Linked DNA regions of Homo sapiens. The protein of the gene in region 2 purifies or fractionates together with the protein of the main gene of each other region. This does not show direct contact. Each region holds a gene or a part of one and is shown on either strand. Other genes may lie near its edges.

Region 1 (3,659 bases), on a different chromosome or scaffold from region 2:
TGAGACTTCAGTGGGCCCTTAAGGCCTTCAAAAATTTTGTACACATTCTCCTCTTTCTTCCTTAAATGTTTCCTCCTGACTTTAAACCTAGTTAGTTCCTTCTCATGATTCAAGTATCACCACCTGAGAAAGGCCACCGCTGGTCACCTGTCTAATCCCTCCTTCACTTCCCCCCATCTCTGTATCATTACCCTGTTTCATCTTCAGGGTACTGTGACTATCTGAAATTATTTTGTTGTTTATTGTCTATCTTCCCACTTTATAAAAATAATCTCTGAGGGCAGGGCGATTTTGTCTATTTACTACAATATCCCCAATACATATATAATAATTCCTGGCACTTAAGAGGGTTTAATAAATATTTGCGGAATGAATGAATGAATAAATTATCTCTAGCTCAGCTCAAATCCATATATCCAACAGTTTACCAGATAAATCTACCTGGAAAACTCACAGATGCCTCAAATGCCAAACATCCAAAACTAAAATGATTGTTTTGACCACCTCACTCCTGTATCTGTACTGAATCAATGCCTTATCTCAGTGGCATTCCCATCTACCTTATTCTTCATGCCAGAAAAATGGGTGTGATACTTCCCTTCTCCCTCTCTACTGCTCCTTCAACCCTGTCAATCACCAAGTTCCATCCATTCGCCCTTTTAACTCTCTCTCAAATGAGGTAATTCATTTTTATCACCACAGACATTACCTAGTAGAAGTAAGCCATCACTAATACTTTACCAAGAATGCTTCAACAGCCTTCTGGCTTCCCTGCCTCCACTATGGTCTCTTCTAATATTTCAAGAATATGACTCTATTACCACTTTGACGTAAGTCATCACTGCTTCCTCTGCTTTTAAGATGATGTTTACTCTCCTTCTACGGTCTAAAGAAGTCTCTGGTTACCTCTTCTTCCTCATCAGTATCTACTGTTCAACTCATACTCCAGGGCTAAGTGATACTAAACATGTTTTAGCTCCCTAGCCTGCAGGTCTTTGCACATGCTGTTTCCTCTCTGTTGAACAGTATTCCTTTCCCCTCCCTCCTTTTCTGGCTAACTTCTACTAATCCTTAAAGTTCAAGAAGTCTACTTGGATTGACCCACCCCACCTCAAAAGGTGCTTTTTTCCATCTGTGCTCCCATAGCATGCTGAACTTCCTGATCATTTTACTCATAACTCTGTGTTATAACTGCTTTTTTTTGTTATTTGTCTTACTAAATACTCTGGTCAGGAGGGATAAATGTTATACCTGTATGCCAAACTTCAAGGAAACAAATGATTCAATTGTAGCACAAAATAATTAAAAAAAAACCGTTTTCATGAGACTGTAGATACAAATGTTCCAAATTCATGTTATTTTCTGCTACTCCCCAGAATGCTTTTAGTGTGTTGGAAGCTAGCATCACAGACACAGCACAAAAACCCTAAGAAACAGGTGGTAGAAACGCTGGTTGCAGAGTGGCCATTCTTAAGAACAGACAAGAAAAAGCTGCCTGGGCAAGGTGGCAACAAAATCCTAGAGAAAGCAGTTAATCTGTGCTTTTCCAAACGTTGTGCTTATCTATCTACAGTTTAGTACTTTTTAAAAAACCTTTTGGAAAGTAATCATAAGCATGTGGAAGTCCCCAACTTTCAAACACAACTATGAGGATCCCTTTTGTAAATCAAGCAAATATTCATTCAATAAAATCTACTTTTTATTTTTGAAGATGAATTTTATATATGTTGAAATGACTTACTTCAGGAAACATGTGCCTAAACTTTCTAAGGTAAGTCTGATACTTGAAACAGAGGTTTTCAGTACAAACATTAAAAAGCCATTATGGAAGTGAGGCTGCATGCCAATTCAGTCAGCTTGAGTTAATGAAAAATAAATATTTGTCAGAAAATATTGCTAAAATGATTTGTGTCTTAAGATACGAACCATACCACCAAAATCGCCAAAAGGCACAAGAGAACAACTCGTTGCCTGGAAAAATAATATCCAATTCATTTGATTATGACATTTATTATATAGAAGTTTCTCAATTTACCAATTAAATGTTTACTGAATTTCAAATTGCTACATTTCAATTGCTGAGATTCATCTTTATAGAAACCCCTGAGGGCTTGTTATCTTAGAACTATCATTCATGAGGCTGAAAAAGCAAAAGAAATAAAAGAGGCAAAAAAGAAAATGGTTACAATATATAAATATCCTGTTTTTTTTTTAATTTTTAGTTGAGTATGTTTGTAACCTCTAGCTTTGCTCTAAGGCAAGACATATGAAAATATATTTCAGTTGTAAGGCTTTTGAGATACAAGCAAAGGTTAATCTAAGCTTTGAAGGTCCATACGTAACCATATAGAAGATCAGTGTTTCCTGGTCCAATAAAGACAATCCTTTGTAGCTTTTGATACTATTTTCAAGTATTAAAACAATGAGTATGGGAGAGAAAGGATATTTCCTTGCCTGTTCTAATTTCAGATATCAGAGGAAGTTATAAGGTGAGAAATGTATACATAAATATAAAAAATAATGGTTTAAGTTTTGCTTCTAATATATGCTTCTATGGACCTAACAGTTTTGGTAGCACAGTGAAATTCCATATAGCTGACAAGTCACTGTTCAGGATTCACCTTTCCAAAGGTCCCCCCTTTTATATAATAGTGATTTCTAGAACAAGAATATTAGTCATATCCTATCATTATAGATATATACTTCTGTAATACTTTTCTTCAAATTCCTACAGGGCCTTCTCACTAACTGTCTTAAAAAAAAGAACTTACAGTCAAAGAATCTTCACCATCATTATGTCCTCTACGATTATGAGCTCTCCCTCTACCATCAGAGATACTGAGCAAGTCTCTTCCAAAGGGTTCAGAAAAACTTCTTATCATCTGTCGCATATTTTCTCGGTGTGCAAGAATGGACTCACTGTTGAAAATATACATAATCATGAAAGATTCAGTGTTGGAGTTTAAATAGTAAGTAGGCAGGTAAATATTACAAATAATTATTTTGGGCTAATATGTTTGTTAGATAAAAGAAGAGTAGAAGAGAACTCTATTTTATTCATAAATAGAATAGAATTATCTCATAAAGATCCATTATTAGATGGTTCCCTACTTACAATGGTTTAAGTTAAGGTTTTTTGACTTTACTGTGGTATGAAAGCACTCCACATTCAGGAGAAACAGTACTTCAATGATCCATACAGCCATGCTGGTTTTCACTTTCAGTATAGTATTCAATAAATTACATGAGACATTCAACACTTTATAATAAAGTAGGCTTTATGTTAGATGATGTTGCCCAACTGTAAACTAATGTGTATGTTCTGATGATACTCGGTAGGTTAAGTGTATTAAATGCATTTTGATGTATAATATTTTCAATTTGCGATGGGTTCATTGGAATGTAATCTTATCGTTAAGTTGAGAAGCATCTGTAGTTATAAATAAAATTAATGAAAACCTGTTACTGTTATCCAATATAATTCATTTAATGCATAATAAAAAAAACATCTTTATTTATCCCATATTGCATAAAAATACCAACACTATAATCTGATATTTACCCTTTCATCACAAGTCTCATTAAAGAACCTAAATTTTTTTTTTTTACCTTATCACAGTGGTTTCCCAACTTTGTTCCAGTTGGACAGTTACTGACCC
Region 2 (3,659 bases):
AACCCGCTCGGGTCCCCTTCCACGCTGTGGAAGCTTTGTTCTTTCGCTCTTCACAATAAATCTTGCTGCTGCTCACTCTTTGGGTCCACACCACCTTTAAGAGCTGTAACACTTACTGCGAAGGTCTGCGGCTTCATTCTTGAAGTCAGCGAGACCGAGAACCCACGAGAAGGAACCAGCTCTGGGACACAATAGTAGTGTTAGTACCCAAGGATGACTTCTATGGGAGAGATACTTGGTCTGGGAATCTTTAAAAAAAAAAAAAAAGGAAAGATGGAAGGGAATGGATGGGTGGATGAATGGGTGGATGGATAGATGAATAGATGGATGGATAAGTTGAGGGATAGATGAGTGGATGGATGGAGTGGCAGGATGGATGAGTGGATGAATCAATGGATAGATGGATGAGTGGGTGGATGGATGAATGGATGGATAGATGGATGGATTGAAAGAGGGATGAGTGGATGGATGGATGGATGGATGGTTAGATGGGTGGATGGGTGATACATGAATGGATGAGTGGGTGGATGAGTGGATAGATGGATAGATGGGTGGATGAATGGGTGGATGGATGGGTGAATGAGTGGATGGATGAATTAATGGGTAGATGGGTGGAAGGGTGATGGGTGAATGGATGGGTGGGTGGATTGGTGAGTGAAGGATGGATGGATGAGTGGATAGATGGATGGGTGGGTGGGATGGATGAATGGATGGATGAATGGGTGGGTGAATGCATGGATGGATGGGTGGATGAGTGGATGGATGGATGAATGAATGGGTAGATGGGTGGCAGGTGATGGATGAATGAATGAATAAATGGGTGAATGGGTGAGTGAAGGATGGATGGATGAGTGGGTGAATGGATGGATGAATGGATGAGTGGATGGGGGTGTGGGTGGGTGGATGGGTAGATGGGTGGACGAGTGAGTGGATAGATGGGTAGATGGATGTATGAGTAGATGGATAATGGGTGAACAGATGGGTGGATGGATAGATGAGTAGATGAAGCGATGGATGGATGGGTGGATTGAGTAAATGGGTGGACAGGCAGGTGGATGATGGATGGATGAATAGATGGGTAGATGGATAGACGGATAGATGGATGGATGAGTGAATGAATAGATGGATGGGTGGATGGATAGATGGATGGATGGGTGGGATGGATGGATGGATGGATGGATGAATGGGTGGATGGATGGGTGGATGAGTGGATGGATGGATGAATGAATGGGTAGATGGGTGGTGGGTGATGGATGGATGGATGAATGGGTGGATGGATGGGTGGATGAGTGGATGGATGGATGAATGAATGGGTAGATGGGTGGTGGGTGACGGATGAATGGATGAATGGGTGGATGGGTGAGTGGATGAATGGATGAGTGGATGGGTGGGAGGGTGGGTGGATGGGTACATGGGTGGATGAGTGAGTGGATAGATGGGTAGATGGATGGATGGGTAGCTGGGTAATGGGTGGACAGATGGGTGGATGGATGGATGGATGAGTAAATGGAGAGATGGATGGGTGGGTCGGTGGGTGGATTTCGTAAATGGGTGGACAGGTGGATGGATGATGGATGGATGGATAGATGGGTAGATGGATAGATGGATGGATGAGTGAATGGCTGGATGGGTGGATGGATGGGTGGGTGGATGGATGATGGATGGATGGATAGATGGGTAGATGGATAGATGGATGGATGAGTGAATGGCTGGATGGGTGGATGGATGAGTGGGTGGGTGGATGGGTGGATGGATGAGTGAATAAATCGATGAATGGGGTGGGTGGGTGGATAAAAGTTTAGGAGTGAAGGTAGAGGCTGGGAAATCATGGGGAAGTCTGGGCCAAGGAAGTGATTTTTAGGTGTGGCCCAGGAGTGAGACGAATGAATGGAGTGAGGGCTCAGAGGACACTGAGACCCGAGATGAGAGGTGATGCCCACAGTTCCCAACTGGTCAGTTGCTGATCCCACTCCCGTCTCAGTCTCCAGAGCCCCCTCTCGACGGCTGCTTACCCTGTCTGGCTCTGGATGTGGGGTTTGAGGGACTCTGAGGATGCATGGGAGGAGTGGGTCTCAGGGATCAGGAGACACATCCAGCAGCTGCAGCCTAACTGCTTCATCATCAGTCCCGGTTTCCCCTCCTGTGCAATGGGGCAAGTCCCTTCTTGCTTGAGGCCCTGGGCCGGGCCCGTCCAAAGCCTCTGTTCTGGGACTTCCTGAGTAACGGTTGCATCCCCAGGGAAATGACGCACAGATGGTTATCAGCGACCCACATTTCTCAGAAGAGAGAGAACAGGAAGGTGGGGGCAGGGTTCAGGCTTTTGTTACGGTGCGTGGGGCTGAGTCACAGATGGAGGGGAGGACGTGTGCTCTGGGAACAGCCCTCATTCCCATCTGTGTGGCCACTGGACATGCCCATGGCCAGCCAGAGCACAGGAGCCCCATAGCACAGATGGGAAAACTGAGTTTTGGAGATGTTTGGCAATTTCCTCCGCCGGGTCGCCCAGCCAGCACCAGGGCACATCTCAGATCTGTCCAACCTGCTCCCCTCTAATATGGGGGTAGAAAGCAGGCAGCCCAGCACAGTAGAAGCTTGGGAAAGTCCCCGCTCCTCCCTGGATCTCAGGCTTCTCATCTGTAAAATGGGCGTAAGACTCATCCTTGCCTCGCGGGAATGACATGGCAAATCCACGAGAGGCTAGCACCTATTCTTGCTGTCGCTATTATGGATCTTGGCATATCCCAGACGTGATGGGGGTTGGGGGTGTCACGGAGCAGGCTCCTGAGCTCTGAAAGGGGGCACCTCGGTTCCCTGTAGGATCGTGGACGTCGGGGGCCAGAAGTCAGAGCGTAAGAAATGGATCCATTGTTTCGAGAACGTGATCGCCCTCATCTACCTGGCCTCACTGAGTGAATACGACCAGTGCCTGGAGGAGAACAACCAGGAGGTGCGCCACCGCCTCCCTCGCCCTGCCCACTTGTTGGCCCAGGGACCCTCACCTGAGCAGGAAGCTCTGGTGCAGAAAGGGAGGGATCCCTGCTCTTGAACGGGCCTGTGTGTGCCCAGCATGGCTATGAACTTGACCCTTCAGCCTTTTGTGGTCAGATTGCAGCAACCCAAGACACAGACCTACAGCATTTGTTTGGTCAGGACCCCAGACACACACACACACACACACACACACACACACACACACACTACAGTGCACACACGCACATACACAATGCATGCACACAAACACGCACAGACACGTGCATAATACATGCACATACACACGTGCACACACGGGACACATGTACACACGCAGTGCACATGCACAACACATGCACACGAACACACATGCACCACACACATGCACACTTGCATGCACTCACGTGCACAATACACGCATATGTACACATGCGCACACACATGAACACACACATGCACACACACAGTACACACATGCACACGCACACACAGGCACACACACGCACACACAGGCACACAGGCACACACATGCGTGCACACACACATGCACGCACACGCACAGGCTGGAGTGCAGTGGCGCGATCTCGGCTCACTGGAAACTCCGCCTCCCGGGTTCACACCATTCTCCTGCCTCAGCCTCCGGAGTAGGTGGGATTACAGGCACCCGCCACCACGCTCGGCTAATTTTT
Region 3 (3,659 bases), on a different chromosome or scaffold from region 2:
ATTTAGGCCAGTATATCATAAGATATAACAGGTAAAAATCACAAGGTAATGTCCAGTAGTAGAATTGTTGGGTCAGAGTTTGTGGCTTTTAAATTTGATAAATATGGCCCAGTTGTTCTCAAAAAAGATTATGTCAAGACAGGCATGGTTGTTCCTACCTGTAATCCTAGCTACTTGGGAGGCTGAGGAGGGAGGGTTCGAGACCAACTTGGACAACATAGGGAAACCCTATCCTTTTTTTTTTTTTTTGAGAAGGAGTCTCGCTCTGTCGCCCAGGCTAGAGTGCAGTGGCGCAATCTCGGCTCACTGCAAGCTCCGCCTCCCGGGTTCACGCCATTGTCCTGCCTCAGCCTCCCGAGTAGCTGGGACTACAGGCGCCCGCTACCACGCCCGGCTAATTTTTTTGTATTTTTAGTAGAGACGGGGTTTCAGCGTGTTAGCCAGGAGGGAAACCCTATCTTACAAAAAAAAAAAAAAAAAGATCTTGTCAATTATGTTACCAACAACTGTATGGAGATTCCTATTGCCACACAACTTTGCCTATATTGGCTAATATTATTTTTTAAAATCTTGCATTTTAAAAGATGTTTAAAAGCATCTTATCAGATGCTTTTCTGATAAGAAAAACATCTTGGATTTTTTTTTTTTTTTTTTTTGAGACGAAGTTTTGCTCTGTCACACAAGCTGGAGTGCCGTGGCATGATCTAGGCTCACTGCAACCTCCACCTCCCAGGTTCAAGTGATTCTCCTGCCTCAGACTCCCGAGTAGCTGGGACTACAGTCGCATGCCACCATGCCCGGCTAATTTTTGTATTTTTAGTAGAGACGGGGTTTCACTATGTTGGCCAGGCTGGTCTCGAACTACTGACTTCGTGATCCAGCCGCCTCGATCCTCCCAAAGTGCTGGGATTACAGGTGTGAGCCACTGCGCCCGGCCTGAGATGGAGTTTTGCTCTTGTTGCCCAGGCTGGAGTGCAATGGCGTGATAGCTCACCACAACCTCTGCCTCCCGGGTTCAAGCAGTTCTCCTGTCTCAGCCTTCCGAGTAGCTGGGATTACAGACATGCGCCACTACCTCTGGCTAATTTTGTAGTTTTAGTAGAGATGGGGTTTCTCCATGTTGGTCAGGCTGGTCTTGAACTCCCGACCTCAGGTGATCCACCCGCTTTGGCATCCCAAAGTGCTGAGATTACAGGCGTGAGCCACCGTGTCCAGCCTCATTTTGGCTCTTAATGAAAAATTTTTTGATAGTTTGTTGAGTTTTTATGGCATATATTTCATGGGATTGAATATAGGCATTTTTATAATATGCTTGTTAGTCTGAGAAGAGCAGGTATTATTTTGCTGAATGATTCTGGCTCGGTCTTAGGATGTTGTAATCAAGTTGTTGGCTAGGACTGCAGTCTAGATTTGACTGGGCCTGGAGTATCTGTTTCCAAGGTCACTCATGTGGCTCTTGTCAGGAGGCTTCAGTTCCTCCCCATGGACTCTTCCATAGGGCTACTTATGACGTGGCTTCTCCCAGAACTAGTGATATGAGCGGAGGTAAGGAAGATTGGAGAGATGGATGGGAGAAGAGAGAAAGGGAGGGAGGAAGGGAACTGGAAGCTGTAGAGCCTTTTAAAACCTAATGATAGAAGTGATATACCATCACCTCTGGTGTTTTGTAGTGTTATAATGTGGGAGAGTACACACAAGAGTGTGAATACCAAGAGTGTGAATATCATTGGGCTATCTTGAAGGCTGGCTTCCGCAGGATTTTATTAACTTATTTTTTTTTTTTTCATGTCCTCAAGTAGCAAAGACTTTTTGGAGGCAAGTGATAAAGTGAGTAGGAGTAGTGCTTCATAAAAGAGGAACTATAGGGTTATGGAAAAATTAACTAGGAGTTTTACTTATGGGAGAAAATACAGGAGCAGAGAGGAGAGAAAAGAGGTGAAACATTATTAAATACCTTTGTCTCTTAGCTGCTAGCAATTGAAGAAGCATATTTCCCTACTTATCAATTTAATCTAGCAAATGCACAAATGAATTGATTGTATGCATATAGAAGAAGATTGGATTTCATGTTCTTTTTTTAATTTTTTCTGTTCAAGGATGAACATTGTCTCAATTACAGAAAATGGTAATTTTTTTTCTTTATCAGGCCACCTATTTCAAGAAATGGGCCTTCCATTCTGAAGGCATATAGAATTAGATGGAGGCAGTGGTATCTAATTCTCATTTAACTACAGCCTTTAATAATTTAATTTCTGTCTGGGTGCAGTGGCTTACGCCTGTAATCCCAGCACTTTGGGAGGCTGAGGCGGGTGGATCACCTGAGGTCAGGAGTTCGAGACCATCCTGGCCAACATAGTGAAACCCCGTCTCTACTAAAAATACAATAATTAGCTGGGTGTGGTGGCATGGGCATGTAATCCCAGGTACTTGGGGAGGCTAAGGCAGGAGAATCACTTGAACCTGGGAGGCAGAGGTTGCAGTGAGCCGAGATCACACCACTGCACTCCAGCCTAGGCTACAGAGCAAGACTCCATCTTAAAAAAAAATTAATTTCTATCCCAACCATTCTTGGCAAAACCTGTCTCTGGAAATTTTATGTGCTAAATCTACTTTTTTCATCACGCACGAGACGCAAAGTACAAGATAAGCAAAATCAAGTACCTACCATCTTGATATATAAAGGCAATGTTTTGTGATAGTTACTTAACATCTTTCTCTTTCTTTTTTTCCCTTTTTTTTCTGTTCTCCTATTTCTCTCTCATTTACTGATGTTACTGGATAGTTTATCCTGAAGAGTCCGAATTTTGCTTATTGCATCTCTGTGATATTGTTAAATATGTTCTTCTGTTCTCAGTATTTCCTCTAAATTGTTAGTTATGTTTAAAAGTTTTATCAGATTAAGTTTGAATTTATTTGTTGATAAGAATAATAAGTGGTGTTAACTCATTTAATATACTGATCTTATTCAGTACCTTTGTGCAAATTGGGAAACAGAGCCCCCTCTGGGTAGAAAATTAGGAAAAGGCACTTATTTTAGGTGGAAGATTTAGAACAGGAACATTCTAGATATATTATTTTATAATTTTCTGTTGTGATAAGAGGATATACTCTATAAAATTTCAGTCTTTTGAAGTTTTCTGAAAGCTTGCTTATGGTCCAGCATATGGCCTGTCTTTGTGAACAATCAGTGTACATTTGAAAAGAATATACATTCTGTGGTTGTTGGGTGTAGTGTAGTATAAGTTATAAACGTGGTACATATTACCATACCCATCTTGGTTGATAGCATTACCAGATCTTCTGTATCTTTATTAATTTATTTTATCTACTCATCTTATGAATTACTCCACTATGATTATAGATTTGTCAGTTTTTCTTGTAAGTTTTGTCATACTTTATGCATTTTGGAACTCTCTTGTTGGGTACATATTTGGGATTGTTATGCCTTCCTAATACATTTCTCCTTTTATCATTATGAAATGGCCCTCTTTGTCTCTTGTAATATGCTTTTTCCTGAAGATTCTGTCTGATAATAATTTGGCACTGTCAGATTTCTTGTGCTTACTATTTGATAGTGTGCATTTTTCCGTTCATTTACTTTAAAAAAATTTTTTAACCCATGTAATATCAGTGGCACAATCATAAACTCCTGGGCTCAA

Evidence for each region.
Region 1: the proteins of GNA15 (region 2) and MLF1 purify together in Homo sapiens (affinity purification with a luminescence readout; one large-scale study listed by IntAct). This does not show direct contact.
Region 3: the proteins of GNA15 (region 2) and MNAT1 purify together in Homo sapiens (affinity purification with mass spectrometry; one large-scale study listed by BioGRID and IntAct). This does not show direct contact.

Annotation. Positions count from the first base shown.
Region 1 is NC_000003.12:158,591,694-158,595,352, reverse strand, and holds part of MLF1 (myeloid leukemia factor 1), read right to left. Parts: intron 2,920-3,659; coding exon 2,772-2,919; intron 1,972-2,771; coding exon 1,927-1,971; intron 1-1,926. UniProt on the Homo sapiens protein: Involved in lineage commitment of primary hemopoietic progenitors by restricting erythroid formation and enhancing myeloid formation.
Region 2 is NC_000019.10:3,153,006-3,156,664, forward strand, and holds part of GNA15 (guanine nucleotide-binding protein subunit alpha-15), read left to right. Parts: intron 1-2,012; exon of another isoform or gene 2,013-2,170; intron 2,171-2,817; coding exon 2,818-2,947; intron 2,948-3,659. UniProt on the Homo sapiens protein: Guanine nucleotide-binding proteins (G proteins) are involved as modulators or transducers in various transmembrane signaling systems.
Region 3 is NC_000014.9:60,737,618-60,741,276, forward strand, and holds part of MNAT1 (CDK-activating kinase assembly factor MAT1), read left to right. Parts: intron 1-3,659.